Linked DNA regions of Homo sapiens. The protein of the gene in region 3 purifies or fractionates together with the protein of the main gene of each other region. This does not show direct contact. Each region holds a gene or a part of one and is shown on either strand. Other genes may lie near its edges.

Region 1 (3,500 bases), about 29 Mb from region 3:
GGGTCTCACTATGTTACCCAGGCTAGTCTCGAACTTCTGGGCTCAAATGATCCCCCCGTCGTGGCCTCCCAAAGTGCTGGGATCACAGGTGTGAGCCACTGTGTCCAGCCAACACTAAATCTGGTACTTTACCTTATAGTAAAAATGAATAAGATAAAATTCCCTGCCAGCACCAATTCACAGTCAAATTTTCTTGTTGAGAAATTGTAAGAGTCCAAATGTATTACAGTGTTGATATCTTACCTTTTCTTTTTGCTTATGATCATATCCATGGTTTGCAGCAGTCGCCGTTCCAGGGCTAGAATATCCGTGTCAGTCACATTCCTACAAAAAGCACAAACTGCTAGCAAAATGTTTTGGGGTCCCACTCTTGGGCATGATACAGGGTATCTGGAGACAAACATAGACTTCAACTGTTACCTACTACTTTTTTCTAGAAAATAGTAAAATGACCATAATAAACTAAAATGCCTTTGCTCTCATTTCTTATAGCTAATCCTCTGGGATCTCAGGGAAATGGAATTCACCCAGCTCTCTTACAGTTTTTCTTAGCTTTGATCCAGTTACATTTATATATATATATAAAATATATATTTAAATATTTTTATTTTATTTTTTATTATACTTTAAGTTCTCGGATACATGTGTAGAACATGCAGGTTTGTTACATAGGTATACACGTGCCATGATGGTTTGCTGCACCCATCAACCCGTCATTTATTTATGAAAGAGTCTAGCTCTGTCGCCGAGGCTGGAGTGCAGTGGCATGATCTCAGCTCAGTGACATTTAGGATGTATGTTTAAGCACACTTTTAACTTGGCATTGTCTTCTACTGTTCTGTTAATATCTAGGAGGGGAGCTGAACTGCTGAAGTTGGAGTTGGTTTATACTGCTGGTCACTAGAAATGTGCCTTTAAAAAAGTGGGAGGGGAGTGTCAGATTGAAATTTGCCATTTAAAAAATAAATGAATGTAGGACAAATAATAAAGGCAAGCCGTACAAGTGATAATACTTATTTAGAAAGATTTCCAGGTCAATGCCCACAGGGACAGAGGAAGAGAAGAATAAAAAGACAGTGTCATAGATCTAATATATAATCTTAAAGATGGTGGCATAATATGACATATGTATTCAAGAAGTAATGGGGCAAAAAAGAAAGGATGCAAAGCGCTCTGTTACCTGAGGAAGTAAGACATGTAAGTGTATGGGCAGTTGACAGCACCAAATCCAGAAAGAAGAGCCATGAGAGTCACTCCAATCACACCAACCCGGCTGATGAGCTGTTCTATGGATAAGATCCCTAAAAACATCAAGGCACATTAATGCCAGGTAATATAGACAAAATGGCTCTCATCTGTACTGCAAAAGGAAACATTATTTAAAACATTAACCATTACACATAACTAACTCATACAAGCCAACTTTTAATTATTAATGTGTAGATGATTTATAATAAATATACTAAAAGTTTACTGATTTTCCTCCTGTCCCATATGCTTCAGAGTGATCTCTTTTATTGGGTGATAGCAGTAAAATAATAACAACAATAATTATAAATAACAATCATTGACTGTTTACTCTTGGTAGCATGAATGCTAACAAAGCAAAGTACTTTTAGTAAAAGCATCGGCCAAAAAAAAAAAAACTAAGAAAGTAAATCTGCTGGAAAAGTATAAATAGCAGGAACTACTTTGTGCTAATTATCTTTGATATATATGTATTTCCCCTAAGGTGATACTCTTTTGCTTTTGTCTTATTCTTTTTTGCATCCAATAAACACAGAATTCATCTAATAAAAGGACTAAACTTATAGATGAATGAGTAATTCAAAGGCAAACACATCAGTTTCGGATTATAAATTGTATCCTAATTATCAATTGTTTCATATCACGTGAGAATGCTGAAAATCAACTTAGCAGTTAAAATAAATACTGCTGGTTGATGTATTTGGGATAAATGAGAGAAAGCAATGCTGAAGAATAACTCAGTAAGTTTGGCATTGCAGAAAAAGAATGGTTTTAACTGGTTTTCACTTTCTATTTCTAGGATAGAATTCACTACAGCCATCCACTCCTATGGTCAAATGCCAGAGCTATAATTCAGGAATTCTGTCAGCTTCAAAACTGAAAATTCCAATATTCCTTTTCTGACTACTGGCCTCCATTCCTAGTCTTTCTATTTCCACTACACTCGTTTTAGAGGTCAGTGCAACCTCTGGTCTTCTGCTTCTCCATTCTTCACCTAGCTTGGACTCCAGGCTTGCTGGCTTCAAATTCTCTCACCAGGAGCCTCAATCTCCTACTATCTTCCTTCTGAAGCGCTAATCCTACAAATTCCCAACTCTGGATCAGTCTAACACTCTGCCTTCCCTGTGCCCATGTTTTGCTGCCTCAAATTGCTAGAATGCGTACTGATTTTGGAGCCATTACAAATGTATGGTCTCCAGTCCTAAGAGAGCTCTCACACTATTGACTAATCCTTATCTTGCCCTTGGTCAGCCATCTCTCTCCATTGTCTTCGGCAGTTACTCTTTATTTTTCCTACCTTTGTCCTTCTCCTTTGCCAATGTCCTTATTATAAAAGACATAGCTATTAGCCATAAACTACCTTCACTCTACACTATGGTCATGAATTTTCTCCTGGTTGCAAAATTCAACATTTTCCAATCTTTGTTTTATGGGCTGTTTTATAACATTGAATATACATCTGCAATCATCCTCCCAACTTGTCTCCCTTAGAACAAAGTAGCATCCAAAGCTGACTTCTCCACTTGTGCTTCTGATCTTCTCTGGGCCCTGGGAACTGTCTCATCCTTATATGTGAGTTCTGGGATATTGCTAGTGATAATCTTGGTGCTATTTGTTTTTGGTTTTCTGCCAGGGGGGTAAGCAAAGCCAGCTTGCCCCTACGCCACCATCTTGGAACTAGCAGTCACCATACTTTTGATTGTATTCAATCCCTTCCACCTCTTTCAGAGTCTTGTTCCATCATCTGTCTCCTCTCTCTTGTATATTCAATATTTCCTTCTTTGCTAGTTCTTTCTCTTTAGTTTCAATTCTCTTTTCTAAGAGAAATTCTGTTCTTGGCTTCGAGTTTACGTCTAGTTACCAACCCCCATCTATTTCCTCCTTAATAGCCAGGCTTCTTAAAAGAAGTTTATAGTTATTGTCACCTTTTCTTCACCTCCAGTTCATTCCTTAACTGACTGCAATCCAGCTTTCTTCCCATTCTTCTTTATTGAATGAAATTACTTTCACTAGTAATTGTAATGGCAATAGGTAATATTCACCAAGCACCTGCTATGACTAGGCACTGTTCTAAGCATTTCACATGTTCTAATTCATTTAACCCTCATAACAATCCTATGAGGTAGATATTATTGAAAACCTAATTTTACAGATGAAGAAATGGAGGCACAGAGAGGTTAAGTAACTTAGTTAAGGCCACACAGATAAAAGGGGCAGAGTCAGGATTCAAGTGCAGTCTAGCTCCAGAGTCT
Region 2 (2,350 bases), on a different chromosome or scaffold from region 3:
CTTGCTTCGGCCCTGTTTTGCAACAAGGTAATAAACAGCCAGAACAGACTGGAGTGAAGCAGGTTAAGGGTGAGGAGAGAACACAGTGCAGTGCAGGGTGTGGAAGGCAGCTCACAGTCAGGGAGGCAGCAGTTCTAGCCAATCAACACTTTATTTTTCAAGTCAACACCTGCACAGATGTTAGTGTCCACTTCCTGACCCTAGTAGGGGGTCCCACTACACTTGGATCACCCAGAGGAGCAGTAAGGAAGCTCCTAATCTCAAGAGAGAGCACATGCTCACCAACTCCAGTGCTGGCGCCATGTACTGCGGGATCCCTGCTCTCCTGCATCATGAAAGGCCGGGCTGAATGGGGCAAGGATGCAGTGAAGGTTACACAGACTACAGTGACCTAAGAGTGTAACTACTGGCCTGACCCACTGCCCCAGGTTTACTCTTTACTTCCCAGACCAGGAGCCTCCCTAAAGCTTGGCCAGTGCCCACGGGATAGGAGGAGCTGGCAAAGGATGGGGTTGAGCTGCTAAGGACAGGACACAGCAGGGAAATAAAGCAGAAAGGAACACAAGACAAGAGAAAAATTATAAAGTGCCTCAACTAAACAACCAAGTGGGACATGAGGGCAGAGCAGCACAGGTCCCTGAGGATAGGAGGAAAAAGAAAGGGCCAGACCACCAGGGCTTGGGGCATAGTGGAATGAGAATAGAGATGAGGCAGGGAGGCAAGCGCAGGCTGTGGGAAGGACTTCCCTAGCCCTGTTCACATCCACTAACCCAAATGGAAAATTATTTACAAATTTAAAACCAATCCTAGGCACAGGTACTGCACCATGCCCAGGACAGCAGGCAGGCAGGCAGGCAGAGGGTGGAATAGCTACCATCCGACAGCCAGCTTCCCCACACACTGCCCCACCCCAGAGTGGTAGGCAAAGGAGGAAACAGCAACACTCCTAGCCAGGAAGCCCTACTGTGCCTGCAGCTCCTTCCTCAACGGCTGGCTCATGGCTCTGCCACGGCCTGAGCTTCTTGGTCTGACTGTACCAGAGAATGGATGTCGGGCCCCAGGGGTGGAGCATCAGGGGGTTTTGGCGGTGTCTCTGGCTCCAAGCCCAGCTCTGCATTCAGCTGCTCCAGCTCCCCCTGATCCAGCAACTCAAAGTCCTCAGTGGTGAGTGCCTCTTCTTCCTCAGGGGCAGGCAGGGGCTGGGGTGAGTCCTGGGGAACAGGTGGGAGAATGGAAGGGGAGGGGGCTGGGTCACTTCCAACAAGGCAAAGTGGAGGTGACAGGGTGCCGGGCAGAGCAGTGAGGCCACCACTCACTGTCTCGGGGCTCAGTGTCTCCACTGGTCCTCCAGGGGAGCATTTCACTCCATCTGGGGGGGACCCTGCCCCATTGAAGTGCGTGTTCACAAAGTGGAGGGGGGATGAGAGCCGCAACAAGGTTTCCTTAGCTGCCACATCCTCTTCCTCTTCCTCCGAGTCCAGGGCTTGCCTTGACAGAGCTTGAGGACGGCCTAGTAGGTCTTCGGGAGGGGCCAGCTCTCCCTCCTCTCCCTCCCCTAGGTCCCGGCTTAGGGTCTCCTCTGGTTCACTTGGCAGGCTCTGCTGGTCCAAATCTGTGCAGAGAACAAAGAATTAAGAATGGGCCTGCTGCTGGTCTGATTAGCCACAACAGACAATGAGTTCAAGGATGAGAACTCAAGACATGGAAAGCTGGGCCAAGCCTTAGGTGTTAAGGTCTTTTAGGAGCTGAGAGAATTAGAGAGTGAGTGGGCCAGAGAGCACAGTAAGTACCCATGGTAGGGAACACAAAGATTGTGGCGGGGAGCAGGGCAGCAAAGGGCTCCCCATACCCTCGGAGACATCAGTCAGCTGCGGAGTTGTGGCCCGGGATACGGAGAAGCCACCACTCTCCAAGATAGAAGCCTCCTCATCTGACAGCTCTGAGTCTGTAATGGCCAAGGCCAATGCTGTTTTCTTCACATCCACCTGGCAGGAGAACCAGGATGAACACGACATGTGAGGGGATAAGAGAACCAATTTATCAGGAGCATCCCCTCTCCCAAAACCTCTGGCTTCCACCTCCTTTGGAGGTGGCAGCTCCAAAGCAGAAAGATTTTTCCTCTGGCTTTCTATTTGACACCCCCGCTTTCCCTGGACCTCACCACTGGGGAGAAGCCAGCCAGCTCTGCCTCGCTTTCACTCTCTGTCTCTGCCAGTGGCTCATCACCTCCTGGGGGTGCATTCTTCCCCTGACGCTCTAGAAAAGCAAGAGTAGTAGAGCAATGACCAAGCATGAATGATGGGAGGGGAGACAAACACAGCTAAAGAACTGGAGAAGATCTCAATTCCAG
Region 3 (3,673 bases):
AAGCATTTTGGATGGATTCTATCCTGGCAGCCTTGCAATGTTTCAAACTCTAGGATTTAAAGTTCATCTTGATACTTTAGAGGTATTTTAAAATAAGACTATCTTGCAACCTACCTAATGGCCCCTGTGTTAATTGAGCACTTGCTCAAAATAGAGTACAGAAAAATAGAAGAGGCATTTTTTAACATATGGCTGCTACATAACTGCAAATGTAATAAACAAGGTAATTTTCCACTTTCAGAAGATATAGTTGAAGTAATGATTTAATGTGTTAAATCATCTACTGAAAATAGAAAAGGTATAGCAACATAGAACATGAAGCCTATTAGAAATACCTAAGTAATAAATAATGGCAGCATTTCTGGTCAAATAAGCTCGGAGTATATTGGAAAGTTTTATTGTCTAACTTTATATTTACATATATATGTGAGATATGGGTATACAGTTGCAAAGGTGAGAAATAACTGTGAGCTACATATTTTATTATCATGCTCCATTATAAGGAAGGTGGTATATGAAATAACAAATGTTATTTTAAGTTATAGATGCCAAATTAATAGCAAAAATAATTCATTTTGAAAAGGAAGAGGTATAAGTTACGTTGCTGTTAGTACCACCAGTAACTGTAATGGATTAAAACTGCTTTCATCTAAATGCTTTAAAAATGCATGCAGAATTAAAACTTCAGAAGTTTATTACATTTTGCCAGGTGTTAATTCATTAATTCATTGTATATTCTCTTTTCTATTGGAAAATACTTTTTTCTCATGAGAGTTATAGGGCAATCTGGAGTCTGTTTGTTACCTCTATTCTGCCCATGTAGAGATGAATCTTTTCAAATTAACTTTGATAGAGTTGTTTTTCTTAGATTTTAGAAAAATGAGAAATAGGTTATAAATTTGACCCCCCAACATCAATCCCTGAACTAAGCCCAAAGACACTCTTTGCCACAATGAACTTTTTCTTAGCTTTTCAACCAAATTTGAGATCTTAAATTATTTAAAATCTAAAATATGAATGCATTTTTCATCATAGATAAAGCAGGAAGCCTGAGACAGTTTCAGAGTTTTTCTTTTCTCATTCTTTCCAGTTGCTCCCTAAGAAACTGCCTCTCTTAGGAGAACAGCCCACAGAAGCTTTTCTTCCTTTGGCAATTCATTTTTTTTCTTTTTACAGATTTAATTTTTCATAGTGCAAGATAATAAGAAGTCTATTTTCTCTAGAAGTGCCTTATGTCTGCAAAAAGTTCTTTGAGGGCACCAGAGGAAACTAATTAGTGACCTCTTTTCACCTCCTTTCTAGCTTATCCCCTTCTCTCCACCCCTTACCGCCCCCCCCCCACCCCCCCGCCCGAAAGCTGAGGTGTGTCACTGCTGAACTGAGGCTGGTGAAGAGACTTGAGCACTCTCTGGGACTCTCAGCTGTGACAGAAGCACTGACACTGTCTACTGAAGCAGGTTCTGAAACACTCATGTGCGGTGTTTAACAGATGCTGGGCAGGGCATCTGCTTGCTGTAGCCAAGTCTGCAGGTGTCTTTAAATTTCCAAGCCATGAATGAATCCAGGTGGACTGAATGGAGGATCCTGAACATGAGCAGTGGCATTGTGAATGTGTCCGAGCGTCACTCCTGCCCACTTGGATTTGGCCACTACAGTGTGGTGGATGTCTGCATCTTCGAGACAGTGGTTATTGTGTTGCTGACATTTCTGATCATTGCTGGGAATCTAACAGTTATCTTTGTCTTTCATTGTGCTCCACTGTTACATCATTATACTACCAGCTATTTCATTCAGACGATGGCATATGCTGATCTTTTCGTTGGAGTTAGCTGCTTGGTTCCTACTCTGTCACTTCTCCACTACTCCACAGGTGTCCACGAGTCATTGACTTGCCAGGTTTTTGGATATATCATCTCAGTTCTAAAAAGTGTTTCTATGGCATGTCTTGCTTGCATCAGTGTGGATCGTTATCTTGCAATAACCAAGCCTCTTTCCTACAATCAACTGGTCACCCCTTGTCGCTTGAGAATTTGCATTATTTTGATCTGGATCTACTCCTGCCTAATTTTCTTGCCTTCCTTTTTTGGCTGGGGGAAACCTGGTTACCATGGTGACATTTTTGAATGGTGTGCCACGTCTTGGCTCACCAGTGCCTATTTTACTGGCTTTATTGTTTGTTTACTTTATGCTCCTGCTGCCTTTGTTGTCTGCTTCACTTACTTCCACATTTTCAAAATTTGCCGTCAGCACACCAAAGAGATAAATGACCGAAGAGCCCGATTCCCTAGTCATGAGGTAGATTCTTCCAGAGAGACTGGACACAGCCCTGACCGTCGCTACGCCATGGTTTTGTTTAGGATAACCAGTGTATTTTATATGCTGTGGCTCCCCTATATAATTTACTTTCTTCTAGAAAGCTCCCGGGTCTTGGACAATCCAACTCTGTCCTTCTTAACAACCTGGCTTGCAATAAGTAATAGTTTTTGTAACTGTGTAATATACAGCCTCTCCAACAGCGTTTTCCGGCTAGGCCTCCGAAGACTGTCTGAGACAATGTGCACATCCTGTATGTGTGTGAAGGATCAGGAAGCACAAGAACCCAAACCTAGGAAACGGGCTAATTCTTGCTCCATTTGAAGAGAGCTACATAGTAAATCAAATGTAATCTGACAGTGGTTTTGGATCATATTCTAGATTCATCTGGAAATTTGCCATCAGAGAAATATTTACTTGAATAGTTGACTGTAAAATGAAGTATGAGACTAAAGGTTTCTCTCTTTTTTTTTCTTTTTCATGGAAGAAACTAAAGGGAAGGATGTATAGAGGGTTAGCTCATGAAATAATTATAGCATGTGAGTATTAGTGTGCAGTAATAGGAAAAATTAAGCACTGAGATGAAAAAGAATATCTCAAATCTTCTGCAGGACATGAGCAAGCCCCTTGGCTCAGCATTTCTGTCTTTCTGTCTGACTGTACCCTGCCTCTGTCTTTCTCATTTTGTCTATGTTTCTCTCACTCTTTGTGGAAGTTATTACTTACATAAACTGCCCTTTGTAGAAAAGTGCTACATATTATATATGTGGTAAAGTATAATCTTTTGCATCAAAGTGTACCTTTAATCACACTAATCTATAATCCATAAGTGATCTCTTCATGGAGGATGCACAGTAAGCATTGCATTTTATTATTTGCCAAACAACCCCTTTGCTTGTGTTTTTATAATGTTCTCTGCAGCACAGTTTTTCTGCTATAAACAAATAGAAACAGTATTTTTGTTTCTTCTGGGTAAAATGACATTTGCTTTTCCCTGGTTTCCTAACAGTCTCCTGTTTTTTTTCTCTCTTTTTCTTGATCTGCATCCATTGGTACCTTACTTTAGAAGTGTCTTAGCTATTGAAAGAATCTACTGTATAGAGCATCCATGATGTTAAATAATGTATTTCTTCCAGCAAAGCAATCTGGTAGCTTATTAAATATTTTTAATGGCTTTTGGAAACATTTTTATCTGGTTCCTTTTAAATTAGTTCATGTGCTTAAAAGTGATGTCTTTTTTTTGCTATAGTAAAGCTTTGTTTTTCTTTAAGAAAACCCACTAGTAATTGTAATGCAGATGCAGGATACTCACCCAGCAGTGAGGTATTACTCTTAAGGGTACTTAGAATGCCCTTTTTAA
Region 4 (3,500 bases), on a different chromosome or scaffold from region 3:
GGCCAGTGCTTGTTTAGCCGCTAGAAAAAAAGAAACACCTTGAGGCAGTTAGAACCAGTTTATTCTTTAAGGGGATGCTTTACTTAACCCTTGCCTGGCATGGCCCTACATTTTGTTCACAGTTGGGTATTTTATTGCCACAAAGAGTCTGTTCTCTCAGTCTTCAGATCTCTATTTTAACATTAATGCTGGTCAGCTGTGTTTAAACCTCAAAAGGGAGGGGGTATACTGAGGCGTGTCAGATGTCCCATCCCATTCTGGTTGGGAATTCAGTTTTTAAGGTTTCCTGGGGTCCCCTTAGCCAAGAGAGGGTATACTCAGTTAGCTGGCAGCCTTAGGATTTCATAGCTAGCTCTCAAAAGAAAGGAAATCAATCATTACTACCTGATACTAATAGCCAAAGTCAAATATGATCACTAAAGCAACTGACAAGAGAACTATGAGATATTCATAATACAAAAGACAAAATTATTACATGAGTATTTAAAAGTTAAACACTAGGCTGGGCGCGGTGGCTCACGCCTGTAATCCCAGCACTTTGGGAGGCCGAGGCGGCAGATCACGAGGTCAAGAGATTGAGACCATTCTGGCCAACATGGTGAAACCCCGTCTCTACTAAAAGTACAGAAATTAGCTGGGTGTGGTGACGCTCGCCTGTAGTCCCAGCTACTCGGGAGGCTGAGGCAGGAGAATTGCCTGAACCCGGGAGGCGGAGGTTGCAGTGAGCCTTGAGATTGTGCCACTGCACTCCAACCTGGCGACAGAGTGAGACTCCATCTCAAAAAAAAAAAAAAAAAAAAAAGTTAAACACTATATTGTACAAAAAAATTAATTCAAAATGGATCAGACCTAAACCTAAGAGCTAAAACTATACAACTCTTAGAGGAAAACCTTCATGATGCCAGTTGGTGATGATGCCAGTTGGTGATGAATTCTTGGATATGACACAAAAAAACACAGGCAACAAATGAAAAAATAGATCAATTGGACTACAAAATTAAAAACTTTTGTGCATCAAAGGACACTAGCAATAGAGTAAAAAGGCAACCCTACAGAATGGGCGAGAAGTGTTTGCAAATCACATGTCTGATAAGGGGTTAATATTCAGAATATATAAAGAACTCCTAAAACTAAACAACAAAAATCAAGCAACTCAATTCAAAAACAGGCAAAGAACAGATATTTCTCCAAAGAAGATGTCCATATAGTCAATAAGCACATGAAACAATGCTGAACTTCACTTATAATTAGGGAAATGCAAATCAAATCCAGCATCAGATACCATTTCACATCCATTTTAAAAAAAAGAAGAAAAACAGAAAACAATGTGTGTTGGTGAAGATGCGGAAGAACCAGAAACTCTGGCTCCTTGCTAGTGGGAATATAAAATGGTACAGCCTCTGTGGAAAATGGTATGGCAGTTCCTCAAAAAAATTAAACATAGAGGCCGGGCGTGGTGGCTCACGCCTGTAATCCCAGCACTTTGGGAGGCTGAGGCGGGCGAATCACGAGGTCAGGAGATCAAGACCTTCCTGGCTAACATGGTGAAACCCCGTCTCTACTAAAAATACAAAAAGTTAGCTGGGCGTGGTGGCGGGTGCCTGTAGTCCCAGCTACTCGGGAGGCTGAGGCAGGAGAATGGCATGAACCGGGGGGGCGGAGCTTGCAGTGAGCCGAGATTGAGTCACTGCACTCCAGCCTGGGAAACACAGCGAGACTCTGTCTCAAAAAAAAAAAAAAAAAAAATTAAACATAGAATTATCATATGATCCAGCAATTCTACTTCTGAATTGAAAGCAGGGACTCTAATAGATATTTGCATACCCATGATCACAGCAGCATTATTCACAATAGCCAAAAACAGAAACAACTCAGGTCAATTGATGAATGAATGGGTAAGCAAAATACAGTATACACAAAAAGAAAATATTATTCAGCCTGAACAAATTCTGGGCCAGGCACGTTGGCTCCCGCCTGTAATCCCAGCACTTTGGGAGGCCAGGGTGGGTGCATCACTTGAGGCCAGGAGTTCAAGAACAGCCTGGGCAACATAGCAAAAACCCCATCTCTACAAAAAATTAAAAAATGAGGCCAGGCACAGTGGCTCACACCTGTAATCCCAGCACTTTGGGAGGCTGAGGCAGGTGGATCACCTGGGGTCAGGAGTTCAAGACCAGCCTGGCCAACATGGTGAAACCCATCTCTACTAAAAATACAAAAATTAGCCAAGTGCGGTGGCGCATGCCTGTAATCCCAGCTACTCGGGAGGCTGAGGCAGGAGAATTGCTTGAACCAGGGAGGGAGAGGTTGCAATGAGCCGAGATCACGCCACTGCACTCTAGCCTGGGCAACAGAGAAAGACTCTGTCTCAAAAAAAAAAAAGAAAGAAAAAGAAATTTTGACACATGCTACAACACAGGTGAACTTTGAAGGCATTATGCTAAGTGAAATAAGCCAGATAGAAAAGGACAAATATTGTATGGTTCAACTGGGAATAGTCAGATTCATATAGGCAGAACCAGCAGCTGGAGAGAGTGAAGAATGGAGAGTTACTGTTTCATGGGTATCAAGTTTCAGTTGATGAAAAAGATCTGGAAATGGATAGTGGTGGTGGTTGCACAACAATGTGAATGTATTTAACGCCACTGAACTGTATATTTAGATATGGTAAATTGCATGTTATATATATATATCTTATTATGATAAAAAAGTTAAGCAATTATAGCATTATGTAGCAAAATCAGAAAGAATTGAATAATTTTAAAAATTGGCAACAGGTCTTAGAGAAAAAGTATTTACATTCACTCTAAATATAAATCATTTGAGAAAGAAATGCCAAAGACTGGGAACCCTGAGCCTGGTCACTGTCTGCGCTGGTTCTGTAGAAGATGGAGTAGACTCAACCAGCCAGGGGTACTGGGTTGAGGGAAACAGGTGAGGAGAGTCAGAACTAAAGAACTCCATAATCGGTACCAAAACCGTTTTCAGGGGAGTAGACGAAGCTCTGGACTGTTTTACAATGTGTCCCTTTCTCAACCCAAATTCTAGAATATCTAATTAATTAAAAGTAAAGCCAAAGAGCAGGAGGATCACTTGAGCCCAGGAGACAGGTCTGGGCAACACGGTGAGACCTCACCTCTACAAAAAATTAAAAGATTAGCTGGGTCTGTTAGTGCACACCTGTATGATTCAAGCCTGTAGTCCCAGCTACTTGGGAAGCTGAGGTGGGAGGATCGCCTGAGCCTTGGAAGTCAAGGCTGCAGTGAGCCATGATTGCGCCACTGCACGACAGCCTGGTCAACAGAGGGAGAACCTGTCTCAAATTTTAAAAAATAATAAAACTAAAGACAAATAGACCAATAAAACCACATAAAGTCCAAAATTAAACCCTATGAATATACAGTTACCTATCTGTGACAAAAGTCCTAAATAGTGCTGAAGCAATTGGACATTCCTGTGGGAGAAAAAAATATGACTCCTACCTTGCACCAGACACAAAA

What was found. The genes of interacting proteins can lie anywhere in the genome.
Region 1: the proteins of GPR52 (region 3) and GPR89A purify together in Homo sapiens (affinity purification with mass spectrometry, with the first as the bait; 2 studies listed by BioGRID). This does not show direct contact.
Region 2: the proteins of GPR52 (region 3) and RETREG2 purify together in Homo sapiens (affinity purification with mass spectrometry; 2 studies listed by BioGRID and IntAct, with this or other methods). This does not show direct contact.
Region 4: the proteins of GPR52 (region 3) and LMBR1 purify together in Homo sapiens (affinity purification with mass spectrometry; 3 studies listed by BioGRID and IntAct, with this or other methods). This does not show direct contact.

The regions. Positions count from the first base shown.
Region 1 is NC_000001.11:145,628,488-145,631,987, reverse strand, and holds part of GPR89A (Golgi pH regulator A), read right to left. Parts: intron 1,302-3,500; coding exon 1,181-1,301; intron 325-1,180; coding exon 244-324; intron 1-243. UniProt on the Homo sapiens protein: Voltage-gated channel that enables the transfer of anions such as iodide, chloride, bromide and fluoride which may function in counter-ion conductance and participates in Golgi acidification.
Region 2 is NC_000002.12:219,181,275-219,183,624, reverse strand, and holds part of RETREG2 (reticulophagy regulator 2), read right to left. Parts: intron 2,257-2,350; coding exon 2,162-2,256; intron 1,986-2,161; coding exon 1,850-1,985; intron 1,613-1,849; coding exon 996-1,612; 3' UTR 1-995. UniProt on the Homo sapiens protein: Endoplasmic reticulum (ER)-anchored autophagy regulator which exists in an inactive state under basal conditions but is activated following cellular stress.
Region 3 is NC_000001.11:174,446,561-174,450,233, forward strand, and holds GPR52 (G-protein coupled receptor 52), read left to right. Parts: upstream 1-1,403; 5' UTR 1,404-1,551; coding exon 1,552-2,637; 3' UTR 2,638-2,985; downstream 2,986-3,673.
Region 4 is NC_000007.14:156,886,684-156,890,183, forward strand, and holds part of LMBR1 (limb region 1 protein homolog), read right to left. Parts: intron 1-3,500. UniProt on the Homo sapiens protein: Putative membrane receptor.